Homo sapiens: one gene and its partner. Changing the gene in region 1 together with any one later gene gives a genetic interaction. Each region holds a gene or a part of one and is shown on either strand. Other genes may lie near its edges.

Region 1 (10,921 bases):
TAGCTCCATGACTATTATTTACAAAAGAATCTGGACTTAGAAAATGTATTTGGCTTTGTGTAATGTTCAAAGTTGAAGAACAGTTGGGGGTAAGACTAAGTTTACTATTCTCTCCTCTTTGGCCATTAACATTTACGGAATTAAAGGAAGTTTCAGTTACAGCTTTCTCATTAAAAGAAACTTTTGAAACGTTGGCACTGTGTACATTTAATAGTTCCCTATTTTCTGATGCATGAAGAGATGAGTAGGTAGTAGATCGACGTACAGAGAGTGGCAAGCAAGTTGCACCATGGCATTCATTGAAAGCAGGGCTAATAGGTGATATGGGTATTTTATTTTCTTCAAGTATTAAAGAATTGTTTTCTGTTGGGGGACCGCCTTCATTCATAGCCAAGTTTTCACAAGCTTGTAGTGGGCTCCTAACTCTGTCAACTTTTTGGGAAACACTAAATGTTTTATTAACATTCTGAATATTTGAAACCCTTCTGTTGTGACTTGTAGAGGCTGAAATTTTCTTCTTTTTAATGGTATCCCAAAGACTCCTCTGCAAAAATAAGGAAAATATACCAATTAAGTTTGTAGCTATTGAATATTAAATAAGCAATATTACTTCAAGCCTGTTATCAAAATAAGTTTTATTTATTATTAAACAATTTCTTAGAGTAAATCACAGAATGGTTAAAACATTACCTTTTTCTTTTTCTGCTCTTCTGCATTTCCTAGTAATATAGCTTGGTGTTTCAGAACATCATTTACAAGAAATGTCATAATCTCTCTTACTCGGCCTTCTTTGAGTGGTGTCCAGTTAACAGAAATAACAATTTTCTCTTTAGGCTATAATCAAAACAATACATTATATAATTACAATAGTAATTACATAATAACCAAAACACCTTATATACAACTTACAATATAGTAGGGCTTAATAATTGTTAACCAACACTCTATATACTAAACATTTAATAAATCAAATATATTTCTCCTACCCTATCTGCTTAATTATAAGAAAAAAAGTCACTAAAAATAACAGGGTTCACAACAAAATAAATAATAAAATCTTAACTGTATTAAAGCAATAGAACAGATAGTCTCTAAATCATTTTGTTTGAGTGGTTTCAAAAGATTTAATTGTACATTTCTAATTTTTAGATGTGTAGAGTACTTCTACTTCAAACACAAGGACCCTGCATTATGAAGACTTTATTTAAAAAGAAATGTAAAGATGATCAGCTAAATTCCTTCTTCCTTACAAATTCCTCTAAGGTCCACATCATCATACTGAGATTTCTTAAACAGGTATTATTGTTCCAGGCATAAGTGCAGGTATCCTGTAAAACTCATTTAATGCTAACATCCCTAGGAAGCAGGTATTATGATTATGCACATTTTACAGATGAAGTAACTAACATCCAGAAAAGTCTGCCAAAGTCACGCAGGTACCTATTAGAACCCAGGCAGTCTAATGCCAGAGTTTGGACTTTAACATCTACACCCCACACCCTGGCAGGTAGACAGAATCTGCCAAATTTAAACGCTGACATGACAAAACAAATTTTGTTTTTCAGGAGAAACAGACAAGTTTCTGTTTTAAAGGAGAAATAATATAACATCATAAACAACTAATTTTAAAAAATAAGAATGGTGCATTTTTACTCTATAAAATAGTTTATTCTAAAAATACCACAAAATTTAGTTCCACATTATAACAAAAAAGAGTAAGTTGAAGTATTATGTGGATAGAAAAGAAATCTGTCTTTCCAAAGAAAGGAAAGCAGGCAGTGATTCATGAAACAGAGGGGCGGGGTGGGTAGGTTCTGAAGTGTAGATAGATGAACCATTGGTGACACACAAGTTAAGGGACCTCAGATTAGAATCTCTTTTTTCTGCCTAATGAAGTGGTTATTAGCCTACTAGTTCAGACCTCCTCGGCTAACGGTTTTCATACTTTTGGTGATTCTACTCAATGGAAAGGTCACAGCAGTCAAAATAAAAACATAAATTCTCCAGTCTTTGGTGAAGGGGATTGGAGCATTACTCTTGCAAATGCAATGCAGTAAAAGAAAGCTACAGGAGTTCTTGAAACAACATTTATAAAATTAAATTTGATGCAGCATTAAAATTACACTTAACAGCAAAGAAAAAAAGGACTAAAATACTAAAGTGTGCATACATACTACACGTATATATTGAAAACAACTCTGAATAGGTTTTTTTGGTTTTTATTGTAGGCATTTAGCCAGAACAAAGCTCACTATTTCACCGGAAAAAAAAACCAGTTACCTCGACTCTAAGGGTACATATGGAAACTAAAATGCATATTAAGATGGCTGATAGAAATTTTAAAAAAAGCTGCTTTAACCAACCAAGGTACTCCTGTCAATCTTAAAAAAGTGTTAAAAAAGTGCATTGTCTATTAATTTAGAACGGCAAGGCTATTTCACAACGCCTTAAGTCTAGTAAAAGTGCTTGTCAATTTAACAGAGAAGTCTATATAACTTGCTCCTAAAGATGCTAAGTGCGCGCGCGTTTATGTGTTGTCCCCGCCCAAGTTAGCGTCTATCCTAGCCTTCAATTAGAGAATATATATATATATATATATATAATATTGACACATATATATATACTCACACACATGTGTATGCGTCAAGGGCCCACCCACAGTTATTGAAAAGGAACTGACTTCACTCTCTAAGGGTCTTTTCTGATTTCTTTTCCAAGAGCCACCCACAGTTATTGAGTGAAAGGGAACTGACTTTATTCTCTAAGGGTCTTTTCTGATTTCTTCTCCAATCGTCAACCTTCCTGAGGAGGGTGGCAGGAAAGATAGCGGAGAAGCAGAACACCGGCCTGGAGCACGCTCCTCCTGAGACCTACCTGCAACACGAAACAGCGCTGCGACACACTGAAGCCCAGGTCCGCGGCCGGGAAGTGGGAGATCTTCACTTCTGCCACCTCCTCGTTAGGGTTGTCTAGGGCCAGAGACAGCGTCCGTGAGGCTCCCAGGAGAACGTCCCCGAAGCAAAGGAAAGGAGACCTGCAGAAGTGGCTGAGAGACAGGACCGGCGGGGAAGACGCCTCCTCCTCGGCCGCGGGGCCCCGCAGCCCCGCGGGCGGCCTCCGCTCGGTCGGGCTCACTTCCCAGCAGCCTCGCCCCACTCGCCGGTTCGCCATGGCAGATTCGAGACCCCTCCTGGATCTCCTTGCCCCGCTCCCACGAGGCGGCTCCGGAGCGGGGATCCGGGACTTACGCTGACCGCTTCCCCTCAGGGGCGGCTGTAGAGGTCGTGGGAGTGAATTCGGCCCTTTTTCTTTTCCACTAACCTACTCCCTAGAAAACAGAAAACAAGCCCAATAAACTCGCAAATTAAAAAGAGGAGCCAAACAAGTATGGCGTTTTGACTCTGTTTAAACTTGCCGCCTCCACCAATGAGGACCTCCGGGCACCGCCCTCCTCGTCACGGGACCAATCGGTGAGCAGCATCCCCTGGCCAATGAGACGGCGGCGCTTCATTTGAATGATTGCATCCGGCCGCCAATCGCTATCTGCGGAGGAGGTGAGAACGGTAGCGGAATCCTGGCCACCGTCTAAAACCCGGGGCTTAGAATTGAAATTCGTCTTTATATTTTTGGTTGTGCTGAAGGGAAGGGAGTCACAGCATTTCCACAATACATGTAGTAATCATTGCGGTTTCCAGGAACAATCATAGATAAAACTGTTACGTAGGCAAAAATTGGTTTATGCCACTCCTCTCATATGCATACCCCGCCCAGAATTATATTAACTTTACTGTCGCGGTTTCCAGGGCTGAATGGTAGAGATGTAAAGATAATTAGTTTGTATGAACATGCTTATTTTAGTGACAACATAGCAGGGACTCAGTACATTTACATGCTGTTAATTACCTCGGGACGCTGGGAGCAAAACCAGGTAAACAAATGAAACCTGAGATTACCAGTAATTCATAAATGATTGTTTTGACTGGCAATGCCCTTCACAAATATCTTATTAGTTTTTATTTCAATTGTAGGGATCTAATAATAATTATAGCTTACATATTAGGGATTTTTTAAATTATTTATTTATTTTGAGATGGAGTCTCGCTCTGTCTCCCAGGCTGGAGTGCAGTGACGTGATCTTGGTTCACTGCAACCTCCGCCTCCCGGGTTCAAGCGATTCTCCTGCCTCAGCCTCCCAAGTAGCTGGAATTAGAGGCGCGCCTCACCACGACTGGCTAATTTTTGTATTTTTGGTAGAGAGGGGAGTTCGCCATGTTGGCCAGGCTGGTCTGGAACTCCTGGCCTCAAGTGATCCGCCTGCCTCCGCCTCGGCCTCCCAAAGTGCTGGGATTACAGGCCTGAGCGGCGCCCGACCCTAGGCTAGGGATTTTTTAAAAATCCTTTACCTATTTATCTCAACCTTTGCCTTAAACCTACGAGGTATCTCTTAGGGCGTAGGTACCATTATTTGTATCTTACAGATGAGGAATACAGGTCATACAGCTAAGTAGGAAGTGGCATAACCCAGATAGGTACACATGCCTGTAATCCCAGCAGTTTGGCCCTAGTCTTGCTCTTACCCACTACACTATATTGCCTCTAAAGGCAGTAGAAAACTTAAAAAATAAAAATAATGTCTGGATGTATGTATGGTTACACAAAACATGTAAAAAGAGAAGTCAATGGGAAATCAAAATAAGGAAGATGAGACATGAAATTATATTCAATGGTGTCCAATTTCACCTGAAGTTGGACCTTAACAATATTTAAACGAAATTTTTCCACTGGGCACGGTGGCTCAAGCCTGTAACCCAGCACTTTGGGAGGCTGAGGCAGGCGGATTCTTGAGGTCAGGGGTTTGAGACCAGCCTGGCCAACATGGCGAAATGCCGTCTCCACTAAAAATAAAAAAATTAGCCAGGCGTGGTGGAGCATGCCTGTAATCCCACCTACCCCGGAGGCTGAGACAGAAGAATCGCTTGAACCTGGGGTGGGGGGTGGGGGCAAGGTTGCAGTGAGCCGAGATCATGGCACTGAACTCCAGCTTGGGCAAGAGAGCAAGACGCTGTCAAAAAAAAAAAAAAAAAAAAAAAAAATTCTTTCATAGAGGCTTAAAAAAAAAAACAACAAAACAAAACCCTGGAGCAGAGCCTCACAAGTCATTTCCAGTTCTCCTCAGCATCTACCCCCCACGACCTCTCCATTAGCTTAGTTAGGCTCCAAAAAATAAAACTTGGACGGAGGAGAGTGCAAGATATGCTGTGGGAGGGAGGAAACAGCCTATACAGCAAAGAGTTAAAAGATTTTGACAGTCTAAGGTGGAATGTAATGGTGTTAGACCAAGAGGACAAATCATAAGGAACAATAAGGCCAAATTTATTGTCATGGGTGCACTTTACCCATTTAATTAATACAATGTCCGAAGTACCTGGGAATGGCTTTAATAGTTTAATAGGTTCACTAATTGAAAACTGAACTCAGTAGTGGTTTACAGTCAGGTAGGTCAAGGCCAGGCACGGTAGCTCATGCCTGTAATTCCAGCACTTTGGGAGGCTGAGACAGGAAGATCGCTTGAGCCCAGGAGTTAAAAACCAGCAACAAAGTGAGACATGGTCTTTATAAAAACAAAAACAAAACAGGCAGTTAGGTCAAAATGCTCAAACTACCTGGCATTCTGTACACGAAGGAGTCCAAAAGCTCAGGAAGATAGGAATGTTGGAGAAAATCTACATGTGCAACCTGCTTGGCCAAGTCACATCTAAACATGCACACCCTCCACCCATTCTCCTTTTACCAAGGTGTTGATAAATGCATTAACTAATAAAAAGGACTCCAGCATCCATGAAAAGACCTGGGTGACTATTTTTTATAGGCCAGAAATGATGATAGAGGATCAATAATGAAAATAGGTTCTCTGATCTCCATGTGAATTATATGATCCACAAGTGGTCAAAGTCGATTGGCACTTAATAGACAAGGTGGTATAGTTCTTACCACAATATGCTAATGGCAGAATTGTAATTAGAGGCAGGGATCTGTGGCAATGGCCAGTTTCTCAAGGGCCCTATAAATAAGATGAGCTATATACTATGGTGCTGCCTAACATATATAGGCAGAGAAATACCACATATGCAAAGCAAAAAACCTAACTGAAGCCAATGTTGTGGCAGTTATGCCTTTTACCCACTTTCCAAACTTAAGACAGTTCATACACCCAAAGCTCCTTGACTAGAAAGAACCCTGCAACACGAATACCATAAATCTTCTCTCAACAATTCCCCAGAGGGAACTGCAGTCATTTACCCACATGAATATGGATTGGGGGCAGGAACTTGACTTCCTAAGGGTTATTAGATAATGAGATAATAGCTCTGCCTTTCTGCTATACTCCAGAATCCTAAAATGTCACTGTGGACCACCAGACATAGTGAGAGCTTCTCAAGAACCGGTGACAGATGGCATCTAAGTCAGAATCTGTCTTACCAAGTGTCCTTTGGATCCACCCATTTCCAGAATATAAAATAGGAACACTTACTGACCACATTCTCACACTGGTTCCTAGATCCAAGGAACAAGGGCAATTATTGGAGAAAGGGCCAAGTGGAAGCCCCTGAAAATCACCATTTTCCCACCACGGCAATTCAGAGATTATTCTGAATACCTGAGAGATGTTGGGATAGTGATTTTGTCCATATACCCACTTTCTCCACTTATTTGGCCAGTGCAAAAGCCAGATAGATTCTGGAAAATGATAGTAGATTATAGCAATTAGGTGATGATGCCAATTATTACACTACAGTTTCAGATGTGTTATTTTTATACACAAATCAACATACCTTTGTCAGCTGGTTTGCAGCTATGAATCAAGCAAAATGCATTTTTCTTGTTTTTCCCCATTCATCCAGTATTGAAAAACCGAAGCACTTTGTACTTAAGTAGTGGTACAATGCTGTAGCATTACTGTCCTGCCTCAGGGCTCGTCAAATTTCCTACCTATACTGTAATATTGTTCAGAGAGACCTGGATCTTAGTATCACACTGGTCCATTATATTGATGACATTTGCTAATTAAACCTGGTGAGCAAGAAGTACTTGTCAAGAATTGTGTGAGTCTGAGATTTTATCCCTCTTGCAAGCTAAAGAGTTAGCGTGCCAGTTTCATAAAGGCCAGCAGAAAATATGACAGTTTTGGGTTAGAGACAAGACTTTATTATTCACAGAAAAAACAGTAGCTAGAGTGTCAGCATGTTCATTCACATTGATTCCTCCTGCTTCCTAAGTCTCATGGGACCATACAAAGGGCCCTTGATGGATGCCTGCACACACAGTGGGTTGTATTACAGGAAAGGAAGAGCGAATTGGAGATTTGACTGTTTTTATAGTACTATGCCTGGGCAGGGAGACATCCTATCGTCCCTCAAGATTTCTGCAAACACAATCCTGAGAAATGGCCTATGTAGAAATTAATAAGGGCTTCACATTCTTAGCATAGCCAGCAAGAATGTGTAGGCCTGCTCAGAGCCCATGGTAAGTTGCATCTCTCAACAGGAGCAAGCACTGTGGATGCCAATAATAAAACAAATGTAAACCAGATGGGACAAAGTTCAGGGTCCTATCACATCTGTAAAGTTTTTAGGGATCCAATGGTCTGAGACATGTCAGGCTATCTCTTCTAAAATAAGAGGCAACTTGTACTTTGTATCATTTGTAAAGCCTCTTTAGATTTTGGAGGCAATGCATGCATTATTAAGACACATCTCACCAAACCATTTACCTAGTAAACTCTAAGACTGACATTTTTGAGTTAGGCCTGGAACAAGTAAGATCTCTGCAGTAGGTCTGGGCTGCAATGGCCCAAAACACTCATTCCATGACAATCCAAGATGTGGAATAGAAGCTCTGGCAAGTTTCCAGAGAAGTATCACAGTACAAAATTCCAGGTTTGGAGAATAAGACTATGCCTTCCTCTGCAGAAAATCATCTATCATTTGAAAAACAGATCCTAATTATGCTATTAGGTATGGTAGAGACTGAATGCCTCATCAAAGGACTATAAGTGACTGTGATACAAACTGTTTATTATCAACTATTACCTAATCCAGGGATCAGCAAACTATGGCCTAAGGGCTGAATCTGACCCATTGGCTTTTTTTTTTTTTTTTTTTTTTGGCAAATAAAGTTTTACTGGAGCAAGGCCATAAGCATTTATTTACATATTGTCTATGCCTTCACACTGCAATGGCAGAATAGCTGTGATAGAAAACATATAGCTTGTATAGCCTAAAATATTTAGTGTCTGGCCCTTTACGAAATATTTGCTGACCTGGGATCTAATCTCAAGGACCATAAAATTTGATGTGAAGAGCAACATTGCACTATCAAACAAAAGCAGAATCTACAAGACCAGGGCTAAGCAGGCCCCAAATACACAAGTAAGTGATACAAACAGGTGATTCAGATTTTAGTAAGTATCTTTTACTACTTCTACTACTTTGCCACTTCCCTCTCTCTCAAACTACACAGGAAAAACTGGGTATCTCTTAATGATAATTTCACAAGAAAAAAGGCCTGATTTATGAATGAAGCTGTATAGTAGGTCAGACATAAACAGACTTACATTACAGCTTCTCCTTAGGGGTGGATGGGAATACTCTCAGTGAGAATTCTGGATGGTATGTTTGGTAGTCCACTTCATAAGGAAGAGAACATGGCCTAAGGTAAAGCTCTGTGCTGATTCATGGATAATGGCTGACAGGTTGGCCAGCTGGTCAAACCTTTGGAGAAAACAAAATGGAAAATTGGTGACAGCTTGGTCTGGGGAGGAGCGGTATATAAAAGGGCTTCTCAAAATAGGTATAGGAAGTTAAATTTGTGTTCCATGTAAATGCCCATCAGAGAATATCCATGGCTGAGAAGGAGCTCAAAAATCAGGTAAAAAGGACAATCTATCCTGTGGAGGTCAGCTTCTTCCCCCAGAGATCCATTTGCTTGCGCGTTGAACCCATTTAGAAAGTGGCTATGGCAGCAGTGGTGGAGGATAAGAATGGGCTCAAGGTGGTTTCCCTTGCCAAAGCTGATGTGATAAGCCCCTGTGGAGTGCTTAACCTACTGAAAGAGGCTGATGCTGAACATCCAGTCTAATTCCATTCTCCAGTGGGACCAGCTAACTACCTGTGGCATGTGGTTACATTGAACGCTTTCTATTATGGAAGATGCAATATTCTTCCTCTCTGGGATAAATATATTTTTCTGAGTATAGATTACTGTACCTGCCCCCATTATATATATATTTACAGAAAGCTTTATCTATAAACCAATGAATATGTAATGGTTTTCACATATGTCCAAAAATTTGTTGCTATCCTCTCTTCAAGAGAGGGAGTTTAATTTGTGTCCCTTGCATGTGGACTAGAATTAGTGACAATAGAATACAGAAGTGATACTATATCACTTCCAAGATTAGGTTATAAAAAGACAACAACTGAAATCCTGGGTACGCTCTCTTTTTTGGATTGCTTTCAGGAAAGTGGTGTGTGTGTGGAGGGGTGGGGGGAAGGCGGGGCAGGCAGTTGCCATATCACTAGGCAGCCCTGTGGAGAGGCCATGTGATGAACTAAGGCCAAAGACCACGAGTGAGCTTGGAAGTAAAGCCATCCCCAGTGAAGCCTCTAGAGATGGCAACTGACTTAACAGCTTGATTTCAATCTCATGAAAGACCCTGAGCTAAAACCACCCAGCTAAATCCGGCCTAGATTCCTTACCCACAGAAACTTGGAGGTAATAAAAGTTTGTTGTTTTAAGCCACTAAGTTCGGTATAATGTATTAGACAGCAATAGTAAACTAAGTATCACACACGACATTGGCTATAATCAGAAAACTCATTTTGCAGAAATGTGCTCATGCCTATAGAATTTACTGGTCTTCTAACACTCAGAAGCAGCTGCTGAGATAAAATAGAGAAAGTCTATTGGAGGCTCACTTATGGTGCCAGATAGGGATAACAACTTGCAAGTTTGGGGGTACCATCCTATAGCCTACAGTTTATGCTTTCAACCAACAACCATTTCTCCCATAGCCAGAATGTATGTTTCTGGGAGTGAGGGGGATTAGAGGTAAGAGTGGCCCCTCTCAATATTATACAGAATAACTCATTTCACTAATGAATTTTACTACACTTCAGACTTCTCTCTAAAAAACAGCATAATATGACTACTTCAAGCATAAAAGTCATCACTAATATTTGAATTTATATTACACTTAAAATTAGTTTAATGGTTTATACATTTAATATATAAAATATTTCAAAACATATAGCTTATGAGAAAATGTTTTAAAATGTGCTGCAAGTTACTTGGTTTCAGAGTACTGCATTCCCATCCTGTGAAAATGTGGTTCAATAAAACCTAGATATGCTGTATTAGGACCAAAGAACTTTATATTTATTTTAAATATCAAAGTAACACAAAGAACTAGTTCAATATACAGTACACTTCCTACTCTTCACAGAGAACTGAAATTTTCTATAAAGACATTTATACTTAGGAAACATCAGACAACCAAAGTATGTATAAAACTCACAAGATATTTTACACACAGTTCACAATAATTAATTCTGATATTTTAGATTTTTCTGTCATTGCTTTTAAAGTATCCTTAATTAAAAACAAAAATTATTATTTGAGACTGAAAACAAGTGCAAAAGCATTTCTACTTTAATATACACTGTAAATCCCCATAATCAAAACATTTACTACACAATGTGGAACAGCTAAATGCCCAGTTTTGTATTATTTTCTGGCAGCCACACTCATCAATTGTAATACAGTTTTATCAATAGGGATAAGAAGAGTTCAATCGTTAGAAGGAATAAAAATTTTGTAATTACATCACAGTACATTGTCCAGCTTTAATGCAAGCAGGAAT
Region 2 (10,362 bases), on another chromosome or scaffold:
AAACATTTATTATGAGCTAATATCTGAGCCAGGTCTCCCAACTGCATAGCTGAATATGACCCTGTCCCTGCCCTCAGGGAGCTGAGAGTTTAGCGGGGATTCAGACAAGTCAACACTTGCAAATCCACCTGACAAGTGCTGGGATAAGAGAAGCTGAAGAACCTGGGGTGGGGAGGAGGGGAGAGCCTTATACAGAAGATGTCAAAGTTGAGTGGGAGGCGGGATGTGGTGTCTCATGCCTGTAATCCTAGCACTTTGGGATACCCCGGCGGGAGGGTCACTTGAGGCCAGGAATTTGATATCAGCCTGGGCAACACAGTGAGACCTCCATCTCTGCAAAAAATAAAAAAATTAGCCAGGCATCGTGGCACTCCCCTGTAGTCCCAGCTACTTAGGGGGCTGAGGTGGGAGGATCACTTGAGCCCAGGAATCCAGGGCTGCAGTGAGCTATGATCACATCACTGCACTCCAGCCTGAGTGACATAGTAAGACTCCATCTCAAGAAAAAAAAAATGTTGAGGCCGGGTGTGGTGGCTCACACCCGTAATTCCAGCACTTTGGGAGGCTGAGGCGGGCAGATCACTTGAGGTCAGTCAGGAGTTCAAGACCATCCTGGCCAACATGGTGAAACCCCATCTCTACTAAAAATGCAAAAATTAGCCAGGCATGGTGGTGCGCGCCTGTAATCCCAGTTACTCGGGAGGCTGAGGCAGGAGAATCACTTGAACTTGGGAGGTGGAGGAGGTGGTAGTGACCCGAGATCATGCCACTGCACTACAGCCTGGGTGACAGAGTGAGAATGTCTCAGCAAACAAAAAATTGTTGAGTGGGCCTAGGCAGGTGAACCAGAAGAGGCTGGAGGGGAAGGCAGATGTGACTGAGAAGGGCCCTGGACACTGCAGTGAAGAGCTGGGCCGGACCTGGGGGTGGAGGGAAGCCTCATGCTTTGCAGTCAGTTACACACCCATCTTGCTGTTAGGTGCAGAATGAACTAGAATGGGTAAGAGCAGAGTGGGGAGCACAGTGCAGAGCTGCTGCTAAGACCCAGATGAGACAGTGGACAGGCTACAGAGACACGAAGGAGGTAGAATTAAAGGGACATGAAATAACCAAGTGCCTTCAGCTAGCGAGCTCCTCCGGAGATGGAGCCATTGGATTCCAGCGCCTGATGTCACTGAGAGTGGAATAAGGCAGCTAACCCCCCTGTTTTCTCATGCCTACCAAGCAGCCTCCTGATTATAATTGGGCTTCCCATGTAGCTCTGCCTACGGGAAGAGAAAGCACCGCTGGGGTGGAGGCCAGGGCTGCGGTCTTGCTCTAAATTAATCAACTGCCATTCTGGTTTGTAGCTATCAGTCTCTGGGAGCTGGGATAATTGGAGACACAGACCAGCTCTTGGTTTGCCAGCAACTCTGGTTCCTGTGCTTGAGGGGTTGCAGATCTGAGTGGGCAGGGGGCTGGGGCATCATGGATATGATGCCACCCTGTAGGGCCCTTGGTGGGTGGTCAACAGGCTTCTCCCAAGGGTGCCCTGTTAGAGCTCACACCTGTAATTTAAACTCTTCGGGGGGCCAAGGCAGGGGGATCATTTGAGGCCAGGAGTTAAAGCCCAGTGAGGTGCAACACAGTCAGACCCCGTTTCTACAAATAATTAAAAAAATTAGCTGGGCATGGTGGTGTGTGCCTATAGTCCCAGGTTCTCAGAAGGTAGAGGTGGGAAGATTGTTTAAGCCTAGGAGGTCGAGGCTGCAGTGAGCCATGATCACGCCACTGCACGCCAGCCTGGGTGACAAAGCAAGACTCTCAATCAATCAATCAATCAATCAATAGAAAAAATTAGAACTGTGAGTCTTCTCAGTATCTGGGGGTGCTCTGTCCTACAAGGGGAAAACCACAGAACTACATACCACTCAGGAATGTGGTCAACAAGAACAAGAACAAAGAACTCAGGGCAGTCATGGGCTTTACATCATCTAACATTAGATCTGGCCAGCTGCGGTGGCTCACACCTGTAATCCCAGCACTTTGGGAGGCCGAGGTGGGTGGATCACCTGACGTCAGAAGTTTCGAGACCAGCCTGGCCAACATGGTGAAACTAAACCTGGCCAAACTGTCTCTACTAAAAATACAAAAACTAGCTGGACATGGTGATGGGTGCCTGTAATCCCAGGTACTCAGCAGTCTGAGGCAGAAAAATTGCTTTAACCCAGGAGACAGAGGTTGCAGTGAGCCGAGATGGTGCCACTGCACTCCAGCCTGGGTGACAAGAGCGGGACTCCGTCTCAAAAAAAAAAAAAAAAGAAATACCATTGGATATGAAAGGAATCACTTCAATGGCATTAAATGTTCTCTCTGGCTTTATTCTCCACTACAGAATAGTCTCCATGGTGGTGCTCATGCCGCCTTGACGCTTTGTTTCCTTGTCATCAAGACAGTTTTCTGCACCAACTCAAGCATGGCATGAAATTTCAAACGACTTAATAGAAGTTTTCTAACTTTATCTCCATGGAACAGCTGGAAAACATCTCCAATTATGTGAGCTTATTGCAAAATGTCTTGAAAATACAAAATGTTCCGCTGGGTGGGGTGGCTCACACCTGTAATCCCAGCACTGTATTCCCAGATGGGACTAAATCCGTTACTCTCTCCGGATTCTGGAGGAGAACTTAATCCACCTCACCAGAGGAAAACTGATCACGTCCCGTGGCCTTGGGAAGCCAAGGTGGGTGAATCACTTGGGGTCAGGAGTTTGGAACCAGCCTGGACAACATGGTGAAACCCCATCTCTACTAAAAGTACAAAAATTAGCCAGGCGTGGTGGTCAGCGTTTGTAATCCCAGCTACTTGGGAGGCTGAGGCATGAGAATCACTTGAACCTGGGAGGCGGAGGTTGCAGTGAGCCGAGATTTTGCCACTGCACTCCAGCCTGGGCAACAGAACAAGACTTTGTCTCAAAAAAAAAAAAAAAAAAAAAGTAAGCCCTGGTGAAAGGAAGAACGAGGACAAAGAGAAGAGACACAACAGTTGTCAAAACTGGAATTTGCCAAATCACTGGTAACCCAGGGAATCTGCCTAGAACAGACTGTTTCTCTTGAAAGGCCCATGGCAGGTGCTACCAGAAAGATAAAGGAGGTGGGTGGGCTAGTGCCTTAGAGTGCCATCAGAAATTGAGGTGTGACCTCCAGAAATGGAGGGTCTTCATTCTGTGCGTGCACGTGTCTGTCACATATATCACTGGCAGCAAAAGATGGGACTAAATCCGTTACTCTCTCCTGATTCTGGAGGAGAACTTAATCTACCTTGGCAGAGGAAAACTGATCAGGCCCCAGGAACTGTCCGCTAAAGCCACATCCCAGGATTTCCTGAGTCACAGCTGATGAATACTGGAGGGCAGCTTGACTCTTAAAGATCGTCTGCCCTTGAGCAAGGTGCCTGCTTCCCAGAGAAGTGAAAGCAGATGTCCCTGGCATCTTGCCTTCTCCCAAGGCACATGCAAGCCACATTCACACCCACCTGCACTACCCAGTCTACTTCCCCCAATAAACCCCTCCTGCCACTTCCAGAACTCCAATCTTCAACTGTGAGCAGCTATGGCACACTGAGTACTTAGGCTAGGGTCTGTTCTCCATGTCTTGGAGGCCTTTCTCATTTAATCCTTGACACCATCCTGCAATAAGGCTACTATTACTATTCCTGTTTTATAGACGAGGAAACTGAGGCACAGGAGGATTAACTAGCCAGACATGCAGTCTGCAAGTCCAAGAGCTGGTATCAGAACTCCCGGCCTAGTCCTCTCTCCCTTTTTGACACATTGCAGAGAGACGGGAGAAAGATCTGGAAATGCCCTCTCTAGACTTGTCCTTCCTCCCTGAAACCCGTGGCCCGGGGCCTCTACCTGCGTGGATGAACTTGTCTGCCAACTTCTTCCGAGTGGACTTGCTGAGGTTGAAGTAGTAGTCGTCGTCCTCGTCGATGCTCTCCAGGAACAGCGGGATGTGCTGGAAGACGATGGCATGCTGGCAGTGCCGCTGCCTCGCGATGCTCAGCTGCTCGTCCAGCCACTGGTCCTGAGCCTGCTTCAGGCTGGGGCATTTGGAGGGGTTCTCGTAGAACTGGGAGTTGAGGACCAGGAACAGGACGCCCCCGACCCAGAAGCTGAAGTAGTCATCTCCCCAAGTCCGGCAGAACTCCTCGACGGTCTCGGCCGTGGGGGTGTTGCCAATGTCATGGTTGCCGCTGACAAGGACCAGTGGGATGGCCCTGTCCACTGCCCTAAGCACTCGCTTCAGGTCCTCCGTCTGCTCCGTCCGCCACGGCTTCCCTGGAAGAGTGAGGGTCACGTCCTGAGAAAGCCAGGGGCTTATTCACTTGAAATAACTAACTTAAGTACTTACTAACATAAAATTTAAAAAAAGAGTAATCTGGAAATCCACTCCACCTAGCACATGGAAACTGCAAAATGCAGTCACGTGCTAAAAGCAAACCAACAAGTCCGACGGGGGCCTCTGCCCATCCTTCCCCAGGATACCTTAGAAATTCCATGACTACATGGCCCCCTGCCCTATGTTGCTGAGTGATGGTGTGAAGTCAATCCTGAGATTAAATATTAGTGGACTGGGTACAGTGGCTCACACCTGTAATACCAACACTTGGGGAGGCTGAGGTGGGAGGGATCACTTGAGCCCAGGAATTATGAGACAAACCTGGGCACTACAGTGAGACCCTGTCTTCATAAAAAAGAAAATTAGGCTGGGCGTGGTGGCTCATGCCTGTAATCCCAGCACTTAGGGAGGCCGAGGCACGTGGATCACCTGAGGTCAGGAGTTCGAGACCAGCCTGGACAACATGGTGAAACCCCGTCTCTACTAAAAATACAAAAATTAGCTGGGCATGGGCACGGGCACCTGTAATCCCAGCTACTCGGCAGGGTGAGGCAGGAGAATCGCTTGAACTCGGGAGGCAGAGGTTGCAGTAAGCCAAGATCACGCCATTGCACTCCAGCCTGGGCAACAAGAGCGAATCTCTGCCTTAGCCTCCCAAAGTGTTGGGATTACAGGCGTAAGCCACCGCGCCGGGCAGAACATGCGTTCTTTCACTGTTGAATACCAAGTTCCTCATATTTCTACTCAATCAAACTCATTAATGGTGTGGTTCAAATTTTCTGTGTCATTATCCTTTTCTTTCGGCCTGTTGATGTATATTTGTTTCTGAGAGACTTGGTTAAGTTGTCGCTGTAACTGTGGATTGATCTGTCTCTTTCTGTAATTCTGCCAAGGTTCACGTCATTTACTTTTAGTTACATTGTTAGACGTGTAAGAGTTCAGAATTTCAATATCTCACTGCAATAGTTTTATATTTAACCCTAATGAAATAAATAAATATCAAGATAAGAAACAGGCGATCTATATTAATGCTATGAGAAAATCTTTAATATATAGTAAGTTAATAATATAAGGCACAGAGGAATAAAATCACACACAAATTTTTAAAAGCCTCACATGTATTCATGTATTATGGATAAAATGTCCCCCAAGATTCAAAGAAAACTGTTAACTCTGGTTAAATCCAGGAAACAGAAGCAGAGAGGGAGGGAGTCTTACACTTGGTTTAAAACCCTTTATATTAGGTTGGTGCAAAAGTAATTGCAGTTTTTGCCACTGAAAGTAATGACAAAAATTGCAATTACTTTTGCACCAACCTAAATACTTTCTTTCTTTCCCTGCCTCTCTCCCTTCCTTCCTTCCTTCCTTTCCTTTCTCCCTTCCTTTCCTTCCTCCCTTCCTTCTTTCCTTCCTCCCTTTTCCCAAGCTTATGTATAATTTTCACCGAAAAAAAAAAAAAAAAAAAACTCAAAGATTTTGACTCCATGGTTCTGGGGCTTAAAGAAGATTGAGGAAGCCAGCCAGGTGGCTGGAATGAATGTTTGGACTGGCAGCCCCAGGGCCAGCCTGGATCAACTCAGACCAGCCATGAGGCCAATGTGGACTGCAGACAAACCCTAGCACCCCTGGAAGAGAGGACTCTCGGTCCCTGGAGCAGGCACGACCTGCTTCCACAGGAGGCTGAGCAGACTGGGCTTCAGACCCCAACTCCTGCTGCAGGGGTCAGCCAGCCTTTCCCGAGCCCATTCCACTGGTGTCCAGAGGTGAGAGGTGGCTGCACGGCCTGAAGCCTAGTGGAGGGAGCCTTAGGGAGAAGCAGGTTCTGCCTGCACCAGAAACCAGGAGGCCTCTCTCTCAGGGGTGCTGGGGGTTCATTCACCTACCGTCTGCATCGAAGGTGCCATTGATTGACATTGCTTCTTTAGCCGAACCCGGACTGCAGGCATCTGTGCTGACTTACATGATCCTCTCTAAGACTCCAGTGTCTGGTTCTTTTCCCATGCCAGTTTAGGAAAGACAAGTCCTTTGTAGCTTTGAACACAACAAACTCTCTCAAAGCGACCCTTGTGGTCCAAGGCTGATTCATTACCACTTTCCTCACTGGATTTTCTCAAAGACCTCAAAGCCGCCCCTCTCACTTCTTCTTCTTTCTGTTCACACTGACTTGGGGATTTTGGGATATTCAATCACTGACAATACTTCTTAGCACTTCCTACAGGCCAGGCACTGTTCTCAGAGCTGTGTGTGCACCGACTTGCTTCCTCTGGACACCCAGTGGAGGAGTGGGGATTTGAACTTGGTGGTCTGGCTCAAGGTGCTGTCTACAGTGTCCTGGTCACAAACTAAGGTCGTTGCTCTCAGGATGACTTCTCCTGGCTGCCCTGAGACACAGGATGAGGACTTTATAATACACTGGGGTGCAGAGCATCTCCTGTTCTTGATTTTCAAAGTCATTAAGTATGGCCCCTCACATGCTAACTGAGGCAGGTATGGAAAAATGTCCGAATCCCTAATGACCATAAACAGAAAAGTTAAGAAGGGGCAGTTCAAAAGAAAGGCTGACTTGGGAAGGAAACCTTGTCTAGGAAGCAACCAACAAGGAAGAGCTGGGAATTACACACAGTAATGTGATGTGTGTTTCCAAACAAAGAGGGATGCTGCTTTTGGGGAAACCACCAATATCCCCCAGTAATCTGTTAAAAAAAAAACGCAGCTCATCTTCCCTAAATTTCCTTCAGCAAAAATGAGCCTCTTGGCAGGGCGTACTGATGCATGCCTATAATCCCAGCACTTTGGGAGGCCTAGGCGGGCAGACAACTTGAGGTCAAGAGTTCAACACCAACCTGGCCAACATGGTGAAACCCCAACTCTGCTAAAAATAGAAAAATTACCCAGGCATGGTGGCATACACCTGTTGTCCCAGCTACTCGGGAGGCTGAGGCAGGAGAATCGCTTGAACCCGGGAGGCAGAGGTTGCAGTGAGCTGAGACCGTGCCACTGCACTCCAGCCTGGGCAACAGAGTGAGATTCTGTCTCAAAAAAATTATTTATTTATTTATTGTTGGAAAAAAAAAAGATGAGCCTCTTTCTTGTGTAGCTTTTCCAACACTTTCTATACCTCTTGCATGGAGTCACAGGTGCTGAGGTGGAGTGAGTGTGCCCTGGGGTTGGTCTCTTGCCCCTTACAAGCTGCATGGCCTTAGGTAAGTCCCTTGGTTCCTCTGAGTCTTGGTTTCATCGTGTATGAAATGGGGATGATAATTCCCATACCTCAGGAATGGCTGTAAGAATTCCTACTAAGATAATGATGTCTAGAGTCTGGTACAAACAAGAATGCAAAGCTGTCAGCTGTCTGCTTTCCACATCCCATCCCCCTAAATGTAATAAATTCTTCCATTTTTATCAGCGACCCACTGTGTGTGCATAACAACCAGTAAATCGTTTCAGAAGGAATGAAAATCTTCCCCAGGGACAGAAATAGTTTTTAGTTAAGAATCTGGAAATAAAAGAGTAAATCCTAGATTACAAAAACCCAAGTTGAATGCCAACATTTGCATGATCTTTAACAAGCTCTCATTTGCATGTAACAGAATCTCTGTAGGGTTACGTACTATATTAACAACAACTTAGTATTAACAAAGATCATAGCACAACTTAGCAGAGCTTCCTGAAAAATAGTCCCATTGTGGCTGGGTGCAGTGGCTCATGCCTGTACTCCCAGGACTTTGGGAGGCTGAGGCAGGAGGATCATTTGAGGTCAGGAGTTTGAGACCAGCCTGGCTAACATGACAAAACCCCATCTCTACTAAAAATACAAAAATTAGCTGGGCATGGTGGCATGGGCCTGTAATCCCAGCTACTCAGGAGGCTGAGACAGGAGAATTGCTTGAACCCGGGAGGCAGAGGTTGCAGTGAGCCAATATCGCACTATTGCATTCCAGCCTGGGTGACAAGAGCAAAACTCTGTCTCAAAAATGTCCCATTATATATGAGAACCCAAAGCCCAAAGCCAACCTCACCAGCATCATGAACAGAAAAAACAGAAACCTGCCCAAGGACACAGAGCTTCAATGAGTTTCCTGTCTCACGCAGGGTTCTATGTTCACAAAAAGAATGTATATAAAGGACAGGAAGAAAGGCAGGGAAACAAGGGGAAAGACTCTGAAAAATGGCAAGACATGACTCAGAAGAGGGGCAGAGAAGGATTGTTCTGGGGTCTCCAAGGTGGATAAGAGGTATCTGCTGAGAAGTGGGTGCCAAGAGTACAGGGACCCCAATGTCAGCACACACCTGACCCCCACGGAGAGGAGCCCTGGGTGGGAATGGCGAGAGCAGTGTAGAAAGCTGCAAAGCGTTTAAAACACTTAAAAAAATTTTAATGCAATTGGTCAAAATAAAACTAGGAGGTAAAAAGCATGATAACGATAATTACAAAATTCTTATTTGTATCAGTGGTACTGTGAGAGGTATGATTTATTTTTGTCCATATTCATTAAGGCAGACATTAGTATCTTGGTTGTTTTCCAAATAGCCTTAAAATACATTGTCTAATAAAATCTCTTTGTGAGTTAGGAAGAGAAATAAACATCCTTAACTGGATAAAGGACATCTGTAAACAAGTATAGCTATGATCATAGGTAATGGTGAAAGACTGACTGCCTTCCTCCAAGATCAGGAACAAGACAAGGAAGTCTGCTCTCACACTCTCACTGAACATCATACTAGAAATCCTAGCCAGTGCAATAGGCAGGCAGGCAGGCAGTCAGGGAAGGAAGGGAAGGAAGGGAAAGACGGGGGGAAGGAAGGGAAGGAAGGGAAGGAAGGGAAGGAAGGGAGGAAGGAAAGAAGGGAAGGAAGGCAAGGAAGGAAGGAAGGGAAGAGAAGAGAAGGAAGGAAGGGAAGGAAGGGAGGGAAGGAAAGGAAAGGGCATACAGATTAGAAAGAAAGAAATCAGTCAATTCTCAGAAGACTGTCTCCACAGAAAATCCCAAATAATCTACAAAAAACAAAAGAACAAAACATCAAAGACTCTTAGCACTAATAAGAGAAATTAGCTTGGATGCAAAGTAAATATATAAAAATCAACAGTATTTCTACATCCTAACATAATATAAAAATTAGAGGTTTAACAAGAAGGATTTAAGAGATATTTGGGAGGTAGAACTGACAGGAATCCTCATTGTACTGGTTACAGGAAGGACTCAAAATTAATTCCCAGACATCTGAGCAACTGGGAGGCTGGTCATGTTGTTTACTGTCAGGGAAAAGACTAGGAGAGAAATAGGTTACAGGTAGAAATCAAAAGGTCATTTTGAATATAAAATTTGATGTATTGTTACAGGCCAAAAAAAAAAAAAGGAGGGGGGGAACAGACAAATTGGACCTCATGAAAATGCAAAACGTTTGTGCATCAAAAGACACTATCAACAGAGAAAAAAGTGCAAACCACAGAATGGGAGAAAATATTCTCAAATTAAATATCTGATAGGGAATGAATATCAGAGTATATGGAGAACTCCTAAAACTCAACAACCACTAAAACAACCTAACTCAAAAGTTGGCAAAGGATTGAACAGACATTTCTCCAAAGAGGATATATAAATGGCCAATAAGGACATTAAAAAGGTGCCCAACACGACTACTTATTAAAGAAATGCAAATCAAAACCACAATGAGACGCCACTTCATACCCATGAGGATAGCTACTATCAAAGAGACAGAAAATAACAGGTATTGGTGAGGATGTGGAGAAAATGGAAACCTGGTGCATTGTTGATGGGAATGAAAAATGGTGTAGCCACTGTGGAAAACAATATGGTGGCTCCCCCAAAAATTAAACGTAGGATTACCAGATAATCCAACAATTCTATATCTGAGTCCCCAAAATAACTGAAAGCAGGGTCTCAAAGAGATGTTTGTACACCTATGCTCACAGTAGCATTATTCACAATAGCTTAAACATGGAAGCAACCCAAATATC

Evidence for each region.
Region 2: changes in ASPM (region 1) and CPPED1 together harm fitness more than expected from each alone (negative genetic interaction), as found in Homo sapiens cells (one study listed by BioGRID).

Annotation. Positions count from the first base shown.
Region 1 is NC_000001.11:197,143,267-197,154,187, forward strand, and holds the start of ASPM (abnormal spindle-like microcephaly-associated protein), read right to left. Parts: upstream 3,404-10,921; 5' UTR 3,172-3,403; coding exon 2,875-3,171; intron 835-2,874; coding exon 691-834; intron 545-690; coding exon 1-544. UniProt on the Homo sapiens protein: Involved in mitotic spindle regulation and coordination of mitotic processes.
Region 2 is NC_000016.10:12,700,729-12,711,090, forward strand, and holds part of CPPED1 (serine/threonine-protein phosphatase CPPED1), read right to left. Parts: intron 4,322-10,362; coding exon 3,896-4,321; intron 1-3,895. UniProt on the Homo sapiens protein: Protein phosphatase that dephosphorylates AKT family kinase specifically at 'Ser-473', blocking cell cycle progression and promoting cell apoptosis. May play an inhibitory role in glucose uptake by adipocytes.